Regions from separate parts of the Homo sapiens genome. Here region 2 is linked to region 1. The links come from fine-mapping of genetic effects on gene expression. Tissue or cell type: whole blood. Region 1 holds a variant in brackets; the other region holds the start of a gene. All regions are shown on one strand. Distances are between the middles of the regions.

Region 1 (5,000 bases):
GGAATTCACTCCCGGGAGTGGATCACCCATGCCACCGGCATCTGGACTGCCAATAAGGTCAGCATGGACCTGTAGCCAAGGTGCACCCACGATGGGGGCTGCAACTGGGGGCAGGAACTTACTATTTAAGGGCACCTTCAGTTCAACAGTTACACTCAGGGTGCTGTCTCCATCCCGCCCTTTGGAGCAGCCACCGTGCACTCTTACCTTTTGCAGCACGGAGCCCACATTGATCCCCTGCCTTCTAGTTGTTTAAAATCCAAGCCTTTGGTTCTGCATAAAAGATATACCTCAGGGGTTTCATGCCATCCCTTCCTGCAGCCACTGGCTGTGAAAATGTCCTGTGCCACCTCCCAGGAGACCCAGTAGGGCCTCCCATCCCTCCTCACTCTTTCTTGCAGATTGTCAGTGATTATGGCAAAGACCGTGTCCTGACAGACATACTGAATGCCATGGACATCTTCATAGAGCTCGTCACAAACCCTGATGGGTTTGCTTTTACCCACAGCATGGTGAGGGAACCTGGGAAGGATGGAAGGAGGGGGTCAGCTCTAGGGGGATGGAGAAAAGGTCACTGTGCTTTGGGAACCAGCCCCTTCAGAGCCTCTTTGCAGAAGCCCTCACCAAGGGCAGGAGGGCTGCTCAGGTACTGCACCTGCAGCCTCTTGCCCTCTGACCTCTTTCTTGCTGCCCAGGGAAGGCCTCTATTGGCAGCCTGTGCCCAGGCCTCTCCCTAGACCCTGACTTCAACTGCACAGTATCTGAGCTGCATCTTTGGCCCAGCCCCATGCCAGCCCCATCCTGTCCTGGCAATTCCTTCCCTTTGCTCCTCCCTGCCCCACTAGGGTCCCCTACCCCCATAGGCCAGGATATCAGAGGCTCCCATCCCTGGGAATGGGCCCAGTGAATGAGGTCACCTGTCCTGGGCTTTCCCAGAACCGCTTATGGCGGAAGAACAAGTCCATCAGACCTGGAATCTTCTGCATCGGCGTGGATCTCAACAGGAACTGGAAGTCGGGTTTTGGAGGTATGGCAACCTGCTGTCCTGGGGCAGGGTTGGAGAAGAGGTGTTGGCCCATGGCAGGTTCTCCCACTCAGTCAGATTATGTTGACTCAACTTGGGAGGCATGGGACAATGTAGTCAGCTAATATGCATGAGTCACGGCCAGGGACAGGCAAGCACATACCTCAGACTGGCTGTGGGTACGGGAGAGGTTGTGTGTGTGTGTGTTGAGTGTACACATGTGCCAAACCTTCACGGGAAACAGTTAGGGGAGCCCCAGCTCCTGAAATGAGGACTAACTGCATGAGTCAAATCCTAAATATGACAGAGAAAGACTTAAAGGAGGTACAAAGTAGCCTTGCTTGTTGTTCAAAATCCAGAGTTTATGGTGCTCCTAAAATATCCCTAGCCCTGCCCTGAAGGGAGCACAACATGAAGAAATGCCTCTGAACTCTTTCCCCGAGAGCTAGGACCTGAAATCTGCCCTCTGGGGAGGCCAGGGCAATAGTTTCAAGTGTCCAATAGAATTAACCACTTTTTTTTCTTGTTTTCTTTTTTTTGAGACAAGGTCTCACTCTGTCACCCAGGCTGGAGTGCAGTGGTGTGATCATGGCTCACTGCAGCCTTGACCTCCTGGGCTCAGGTGATCCTCCCACCTCAGCCTCCCAAGTAGCCGGGACCATAGGTGCACACCACCACACCCAGCTAATTTTTGTTTTTGTTTTGAGACTGAGTCTTGCTCCATTGCCCAGGCTGGAGTGCAGTGGCGTGATCTTGGCTCACTGCAATGTCTGCCTCCTGGGTTCAAATGATTCTCCTGTCTCAGCCTCCTGAGTAGCTGGGATTGCAGGTGCCCACCACCACGCTGGGCTAATTTTTGTATTTTTAGTAGAGATGGAATTTCCCCATATTGGTCAGGCTGGTCTCAAACTCCTGACTTCAGGTGATCCACTCACCTCGGCCTCCCAAAATGCTGGAATTACAGGCATGAGCCACTGCGCCCAGCCAATTTTTGTATTTTTAAAAAATTTTGTAGAGACGTGGTTTCACCATGTTCCCTCAGCTGATCTTGAACTTTTGGGCTCAAGTCAATCAGCCGCCTCGGCCACCCAAAGTGCTGGGATTACAGGCATAAGCCACCACACCTGGCCTTGAGCCAATTCTTTATCAACAAGGCTGGCTTGAGCCTGATTTTTATTTTTGACCCATTACTTTATGACCCTGGTGCATACCTGCAGAGCTGGCTGATCCCAGTGAGGGGGAGGGGGCAGCTTTCTCCTGAGTTCCTTGGTGTTCTTCCCTGATTATCTCCCTAACCATGCAAGGGGCACAGGGATTGGGAAATTGAGGCCTCCAGAAAGCTCAGAGACAGGTCCATGGACCCTGGAAATACAGCAATTTGATGGGCAGGACAATTTGATGGGTCCAGTCATGACAGAGATTCCAGAACAGACACAGCCCTCGGCCCCCAGACATGGCATCTGCACTTCACC[G/A]GGGGCTCAGGGTTTGGCTCCACAGGGGACGGTGTCATTGCTGTTGATAATCAGACCTATAGGCTGGTGTCCCAACCAATGAGATAGAACATTTTAGATCTGGATGCCCATTGCTTTTAAAATCTGGCTTCTTGGGGTCTGTTCTCACTGAAAAATAAGGATGGCCCCAAAGCACTGAGAGTGAGGTCCCTGGCCCTAGCGTGGGGGTTGTAACTGCTTGTGTAATGGAACAAGACCATGCAAAATTAGGCATTTCCACCTCCAAATGAACAGACGCTTGCCTCAGGGGGGGCATCCATGTGGCCCCTCAGCACTGACTGGAGTGAGTACCCATGGATCCCAAGATAGGCTGGCTAGTAGAAAGATAAATTACCTCTTAAAGAAAATAACTTCTGTGGGTCTCACCACAGGAAAAAAAATATCCATATACACACAGTGTACAAAACAATTATGGAAAAAAGCCCAGAGGGGGCAAAAAGCTCCCATAATCCCACCACTCAAAGATCACTGCTTTTAATAATTTACCATGTCCTTCCAGAGATTTCCCCTTGCTACAAATTACATTTTTAGAGAAGGAAAAATAAATAGCTAATGAATCCATTAGCAGGTACTTGTGAAACAGGCGGACTCAGAGGACCTTGACTGTGAACGTCAGAGATGCAGGCAGCCAATTCCCATTTGGCCAGGGGAAGATTAGTTTATTCTGCTTAGCTCAAACCAGAACTAATGGCCTAAAGTGTTTCTCCATATTTGGGCAAAGCCACCTGGTCGTTGGCAGGGGAACCGCTTTCTGTGCGTGGGCCGCAAAGGCAGACAAAGCCTTCAACCTCCCCCCGCTCTGCGCATCTGTTGCTGTTTGTCATTCATCAAGTGGAGCAGGTGCAGGAGCTCCTGGCAGACATAACAAACAAGGCCACTGTTAGATGGGCTGATTCCAGCCTGGGGGCTGCCTTTCACCCCCTAGCTCTGCCGGCACATCCCCTTCTAACCAGGGTCCCCATCCCAGGTGAGGACCACCAAACCGAGAAGGGGCGCGCTCCCTGGGCCTCCCTGGGGCCAGCAAGAGTGTGTGTCTGGGTTGGTGACTCAGGCTGGATGATTTTGTTTATGGTTTTGTTATTGCCTTAATTGAATGGCTGTGTAATGAGTAACCTGTAGACCATCCCTCCCACCCGTGCCTGGCCTCCTGTGCATTCTTGGGGAGGACCTGTGTGCTGCATTCCTAGAGCATCATCTGAAGTGGTCCATGGGCCAGCCCCCAGCCCCAGGAGTCAAGAGGAATGCTGTGGCCTCCTCAGGAGACTTCAGAAGTTGAGGCGATCCCTGATCTCTGGACGGTGCCAACATTCCAGGGAAGAGGAGAGAGAGGAGAAACTGGGATGACTCCTTCCAAGTGTGTCCTTAGCCTACAAAGTCTTGACCAGCTCAGCACAGCCCAACCCTCCCCTCAGGAATAAGGGAAAAGCAGAGGAGGAGCAGAAGAGGAAGACAGAGATGGGGCGAAGGCAAAGAGTCCAGGGGGAAATGGAAACAAATGAAACTTGGGAAAAGAATAAAAGCCCTGCTCCTCTTTGTTCTCTCCCTCATCTTAAGTCCCCAAGAAGAATTTTCAAAGACTTCTTTGCACCTCTGGCTCCCAGAACAGCCTCAGGCAACTATGGGGAACTATTCTCCCGTATTGGTTTCCCATATCCCCAGACCCCAAGTTCATGGCGCACCTGGGGCCATGGCTGTGGCAAAGCTTCAGCTGACACCGAGTCTGAGCCCTCAACTGATGGCACACCCAGGAACGGTCAGCCTAAAGGCATTTGCTGCTCACTAGGGGAAGCCAGGGTTGGGGCAGAGACTTACAGTTTCCTCTGGATGCAACTTCTGAGCCAGGCCCACCTTCCTAAAGGGACCACAGGACAAGCCGAGGGGGCTCCCTGCAGGGCTTCAGAACTGCAGGGTATGGTGCGGCTGCAGTCCTCTGACATATTAGATTAGAGGATGCAGCAGTAACAAATATCCATCCCAATCTCAGTGGTTTAACACAATGAAAGTTTGTTTTTCATGCACACAAAGTCCAACATGAACAGGTGACTCTCCTTGGCGGCTTTCTTCCGCAGTGAGAGAGGGATCCAGGAGGCTGTTTCTATCTAGAATTTTTTTTTTTTGCTTCCAGCCACACAGACAGAAAAGAGCATGGAGAAGTCACACTTGCTCTTAACAATCTCAACCCAGAAGTGCCGTGTCATTTCTGCTCACCTTTCCATTGGTCAAAGTAGTCACATGACCTCAGTCATACTGCAAAGGAGGCTGGGAAATGTAGGGGAACACACAGGTATTTTGTGAGCACCGTCTGTGTCGCACGTGGGGATTTGACTCTTTGGGTGGCTTTATTTTACTTCCAGGAAATGGTTCTAACAGCAACCCCTGCTCAGAAACTTATCACGGGCCCTCCCCTCAGTCGGAGCCGGAGGTGGCTGCCATAGTGAACTTCATCACAGCCCATGGCAACTTCA
Region 2 (5,722 bases), 21 kb before region 1:
CAGAACAGGGAGGATTGCACATTGCTTGTTAGAATTATTCCTGATTTTTTTTTTAAGAAGGGGTGTCCCAAGTAGCTGAGACCACAGGTGCATGCCACCATGCCTGGCTAACTTATTTCTATTTTTTTGTAGGGACAGGGTCTCCCTATGTTGCCTGGGCTGGTCTTGAACTGCTGTCCTCAAGTGATCGTCCCTCCTTGGCCTCCCAAATTGTTGGGATTACAGGCACGAGACACTGCACGTGGCTATATGCTTTCTTTTATTAGTATTTACTTGGAATATCTTTTTTCCATCCTTGACTTTGAGTCTCTCTTTCTTCTTATGTTTTAAGAGTGCCTCTTGTGAAACCATATAGCTAGTATTTTTTTCTTTTTTTTTTTGAGACAGTCTTGCTCTGTCGCCCAGATTGGAGTGCCGTGGCATGATCTTGGCTCACTGCAACCCCCGCCTCCTGGGTTCAAGCAATTCTCCCACCTCAGCCTCCCGAGTAGCTGGGATGACTCCCACCACCATGCCCAGCTAATTTTTGTATTTTTAGTGGAGTTTGAAAGTTATGTGCACTGGGCCTATTCTTCTAGTTGTTGCTCTAGCTATTTGAACACGCATATTTACCAAAATCTAAAAAATTATCAATATCTCTCCTTTCTCCCAATAATTCCAGGACCTTAAAGACACTTTAACTCTGATGACCCACTTGCAGATAACATGCTATTCTTGTCCAGGACTTAAAACTTTGGTGTTAGATGATGCCGGGGAAAATATTTCCTGAGATTTCATAACCACAAGTAAGCCCCCGACATGAATTTGTGGTTTAAGTTTATGCTAACTATGCAGTCCCCCAAAAAAATCTTAAATTATTTAATTTAGAGTGGTCGCAGGTTGGTAGTGTCCCCAGCAACTTACAGAAGTAAACGCAAATCTTTTCTGGAAGAACCCACCTTCAACCCAGGCCTCAAGGGATTCTCACAGATAAATGTTCAAGGAAAATGATTGGTTCACAGGTATGTGGCATGAGAGAAAATGCACCATGAGTGAGAACCAGCGGAAAGAATAGGCAGCAGAAACAGACTTAAAACATCTAGGAATTGTAATTATCTAACACAGAATATAAAATATCTGTCTTATACGTTTAAAGAAATAAGAAATTCTAAAATAGATAAGAAATTCAAGTCATTTGGGCTTGAATCAGAAAAAAAGAATCAAATAGAACTTCCAAAAATGAAAAATGAATATCATATTGCATTGACTATAAAACAGGATCAATTTTATAAGATGCACCATAATTTTATGTGCCACCTTAGCATTGCAAGATGCCACCAATTGTAAGATGTATCCTGATTTTAGCAGTGTTAAAAATGTGAAAAAAATAGGTTGCAGAATCAATGAACCGTAGCAATTGAAAGGTAAAACTTCACAGATCAATTAAATTGCAGATTAAACTCAGCCAATGAAGAATCAGGTAACTGGAATAAAGACAAAAATATTTTTTACTAATAAATTATCCAGAATGTAGCCCAGAGAGACCACACAATGGAAATATAGCAGAATGCTTATGAGTCTTGGGGGCTAGAATGAGGAGGTCCAGTCAAAAGTTCCAGATGAAGGTAATAGAGAGGAAAAGGGGCAATGTTTAAAAATATAATGGCTGAGAAATTTGGAAAATAATAGAAAGCGAGTGACACTCAGATACAGGAATTCAAATGATTCTCAAGCAAGACAAAACAAAAAAAATCCATACCTGGACTTACGATGATAAAACTGTGGAACATCAAAAGCAAAGAGAAGCTCTTCAAAGAAACCAGGAACAAAGAGAGGTCACCTTCTGAAGAACAGTAAGTCAACAAACATTACCTTTTAGCAGCAAAAATGGAAGCCAGAAGACTGTGGGATAATATTTTCAATGTGTTGAGAGGAAAACAGTAATCAACTTGGAATTTCTATCCCAAAAAACCCTTTCAAGAATGAGAGCAAAATAATTCTTTCTTTCTTTCTTTCTTTTTCTCTTTCTTTCTTTCTTTCTTCTTCTTTCTTTCTTTCTTCCTTCCTTCCTTCTTCTTTCTTCTTTTCTTTCTTTTTCTTTCCTTCTTTCTTCTCTTTCTTTCTTTCTTTCTTTCTCTTTTTTCTTTCTTCTTTCTTTATTCTTTTTTTTCCTTTCTTTCTCTTTCCCTCTCTCCTTTCTTTTTTTTTCTGTCTGTCCTTCCTTCCTTCCTTCCTTCCTCGCTCCCTCCCTCTCTCCCTCCCTCCCTCTCTTCCTCCCTCCCTCCCTTCCTTATTTCTTTTCTTTTTCTTTTTTTCTTTTTTTTTTTTTTGAGATAGGTTTTTGTTCTGTCACCCAGGCTGGAGTATGGTTCTCTGCAGCCTCAAAGTCCTGGGCTCAGTTGATCTGCTTGCTTGCTTCCCGAGTAGCTAGGACTACAGATGCGTGCCTCACCATGCCCAGCTAATTTTATTTTATTTTTGCAGAGATAGGGTCTCCCTGACTTGCCCAGGCTGGTCTCGGACTCCTGGGCTCAAGCGAACTCCTGGGCTCCTCCTGCCTTGGCCTCCCAAAGCACTGGGATTACAGATGTGAGCTGCCATACCTGGCCAAAAATTTTCAAATAAGTAAAAACAGAAACCTTAACTAAAGGAAGGTTTGAAAAGATAGATTTGAAGCAGAGGGAAGATGATTCTAGATACATGGTACATGCATCCAGTAGGAAAATCAAGAACACCAGCATTCTGAGAAGTTCTCTGAGGCAAAACTTGCTTACCACTTGGGTGTCTGTCTGGCTTTTCCTTCTTTTTGGGATCTATAGATTCTTATTTTTGTGCCAACCCAGCAATGGCTTTAGAAAGTTGTTACTAAAAATATTTTCTTCTGCATTTGAGTTCTTTCATTTGGGCAAGATTGCTTAGGTATCTAACCCACCCCACCTGCAGGAAATAAAAGTCCTCCAAAAAAATTTCTAATTTAGGGAAACTCTCCTTCAGTCTATGTGGAGCCCATGTTCCCCGTCCTCATGGTACAATGTGCCTTTCCCTTGTAACACAAACACCATCTATAGTTTTACACTTATCTGGAGTGAGATGGGCTACCATTATGTCTTGGGTTTACCAATTATCTTCATGCTATTTAAATTAATTTTCTACTTACGCCTTTAGAAATGTAAGGGCCAGATATGTGTTGCTTTCTATTTTGTTTCCAGACTTTAGCAAGTGCCTGGAACATAGCAGGTATTCAGAGGACATTTACTGAGTAAATGATTAGGTGAGTAATTAATTATAAGTGAAAAGCCAAAATGAGGTATTAGGTCAAGCATAGCTATGTGTCTCCGCTTCAAATCCAGCCATAAGCTGATAATTGCAGTTCATAAGTATGATAATTGGGTGCTCACGCATGCGTGTGTGAGATGTGTCACCCTCAAACCTTGTTATGACGTCAGCACATTACCCGTCTAACATGAACTTAGAAGAAGCAAAACCAAAAACAAATCCAGCCATTGGAGATGGTGCTTTCAGGGTTGGTGAATTCCCAGAGAACTCTGCTGTCCAATATGGTAGCCATTAGCCACATGTGGCTATTTAAATTTTATTTAAATTAATTAAAGTTAAATACAACTCCAAAATCAATATTCAACCACAATAGCCACATTTCAAGAGGTTAGTGGCTATCCTACTGGGGGGTGTGGACATAGAATATTTCCATTATCACAGAAAGTTCTATTGGAAGCTATGTCATAGAATTCTCAAAACTTCCTAACTGCTTCTCTCTCTCTCTTTTACTCTTATTCTTTCTCTCTCACTCTCTCTCTTTTCCCACCCTTAAGCCAAGTACAGGGATAGTTGTCTCATCATTGGTGGCTTAAAATGATGTTTTTGAACAAGAAGACGCCCCATGGGTACTTTTGGTGACTAGCACTATCTCTGTTTTTTTCCTTTTAAATTCCTGAGCTATTGTTTAGCAGTACACCCTTTTATCTCCATTGCTACTGAAGCTGAATGTTACTTGGGTGGAAAGCATAACTGCTTTCTTTTCTATGTCCTTAAACCCTTTGATAATGTTACTGTTTGAGAGTCCCTGAAGCCAGGATACTAGAAGAGTCTGGCTTGTCTGAACAGCTGAACTACGAAATAATGGAGTAGGGCAGGTGGGTGGGGGAGCAGGGCGTTCTGTCGATAAACGAGCTCCCTTCTTTGCACACATAGCCAGTTAATCGGCCATTCTGAGATAGTTTGGATGGGGAGGGGGAGCTTCTGAGAATCGCCAGTGACAGTTAAGTGGCCTATTGTTGACGTCCTCTGCTGAACGACTTGGTTGGATTCAGCTTCTGCCTTACCCCCACCCCCTGTGGATTTTCTGTTAGATTCATCATTTGCCATTCAGGCATCATCTTTCACTTTCTCCTTCCAACATGACTGCTTTGTGTGCTGGCCCCTGCTTTACTCCTGCTATTCCCAAACTATAAAGGGAACTGTGTGGGGCTTCAGCAGGACTGAGAAATTGACTCTGCTGTCTGTTGAGAACTCTAATAATGACTGCGGTGACCTTCATGTCTAGCAGAAAACCCACTGTCTGTGCTAGCACAATGATGACCACCTGAAGACAGAGAAAAGGGAATCTTGATTGAATTCCTTCTCATACAATATATAGTTATTTCCTTTGTTCTCCTCTCCATTCTCTTCTCTTCCCCTTCTCCCCATCGCCACTGGAGGACTGATCTCAAATGCAGCTGTGACTAAAAGTTAATGCCTTTTGAATAATAATACATTGCATTTTGCAGGCTTTACCAAGCCAATTCACTCAAGTTGTCTCATCTATACCCCTTCAAACCCTGTGAGGTAGGGAGGGGAGGTATGATTAACCCCATTTGATGGATGAGTAAACTGAGATTTAGAGATTAGGGCAGCTGCCCCAGATATTTTAGACGGGAAGTGAGCACCCAGTCTCTGTCTCTAAGTCCAGCGGTGTTTCAATGGCATCCACACCTTATGTGTAAGGAGGATATGGCCCAGGGAAAGCATGAGTGGGCTAGGCGGAGAAGAAGAGCGAAAGAGAAGATGCTGTAGAGGAGGGAGGAAAGGAGGGGTATCCCAGGGCTGCTGGCTACTTTGGTCTTTCTCCAGAGATGGAAGCTTTGATGCTCACAAGGGGCTGCCCTGGCAAACCTCCTGAGAGAAAAGAAAAGCTAAGGCCTGTCTTCCTCCTTCTCTCTTCCCTCTCCCCTTCCCAGGAGAGGATGTGCTGGGTTGGGGAGGGGCAGCCCTAGCTCTCCCAAGGCCTGGCATGTGGGAGCCACATGCTGGGTGCCCCAGACAGCCTAATGCTCTTTCTCAGGCTGGGCTTTCCAGCCTCTAGGTGCTGTGCTGTCCTGAGGCCTGGGCCATGGTGCCCAAGGAAAGCCCCTGAAGCTCACCAGGAGGAAGAAGCATGCAGGGCACCCCTGGAGGCGGGACGCGCCCTGGGCCATCCCCCGTGGACAGGCGGACACTCCTGGTCTTCAGCTTTATCCTGGCAGCAGCTTTGGGCCAAATGAATTTCACAGGGTGAGTGGCTGCTCCACAGTGGGAGGGAGGACTGGCTGGGAGGAGGGGACTGGGTGTCCCAGCAGGAGGTGGCTGCCCTGCTGGTGCCTGATCAAGGCGGAGAGTCAGGATGTGGGTTCCTGTCCTGAACCCACTTCCAGCTCCACAGCCTCCCACTTTCATGCTCCGGGGCTGGCTCGTTGGTGGTCCTCCCCAA

Evidence for each region. PIP is the estimated chance that this variant, and not a neighbour inherited with it, causes the effect. A credible set is the group of variants that fine-mapping cannot tell apart.
Region 2: it holds the start of CPA5, and the variant in region 1 is the best candidate, but not a certain one, in a credible set for the expression of CPA5 in whole blood (TOPMed, PIP 0.76).

What each region holds. Positions count from the first base shown.
Region 1 is chr7:130,362,483-130,367,482 of GRCh38, forward strand. CPA5 (carboxypeptidase A5) reads left to right here. Exons shown (of 13, transcript NM_080385.5): 8 at 1-57; 9 at 402-512; 10 at 937-1,027; 11 at 4,890-5,000. It overlaps LOC105375504 (a long non-coding RNA gene), which reads right to left and starts at 4,645. Exons shown (of 2, transcript NR_133928.1): 1 at 4,348-4,645; 2 at 3,168-3,387. RefSeq lists an enhancer at 3,004-3,505 and a silencer at 3,576-3,625. The variant G/A (reference allele first, on the strand shown) is at 2,497.
Region 2 is chr7:130,341,076-130,346,797 of GRCh38, forward strand. CPA5 (carboxypeptidase A5) reads left to right here and starts at 3,741. Exons shown (of 13, transcript NM_080385.5): 1 at 3,741-4,130; 2 at 4,764-4,821; 3 at 5,318-5,526. The coding sequence starts at 5,411. The region is part of intron 1 of LOC105375503 (a long non-coding RNA gene); the gene reads right to left. It overlaps LOC124901837 (small nucleolar RNA U13), which reads left to right and starts at 3,340; the gene lies at 3,340-3,443. RefSeq lists an enhancer at 4,933-5,722.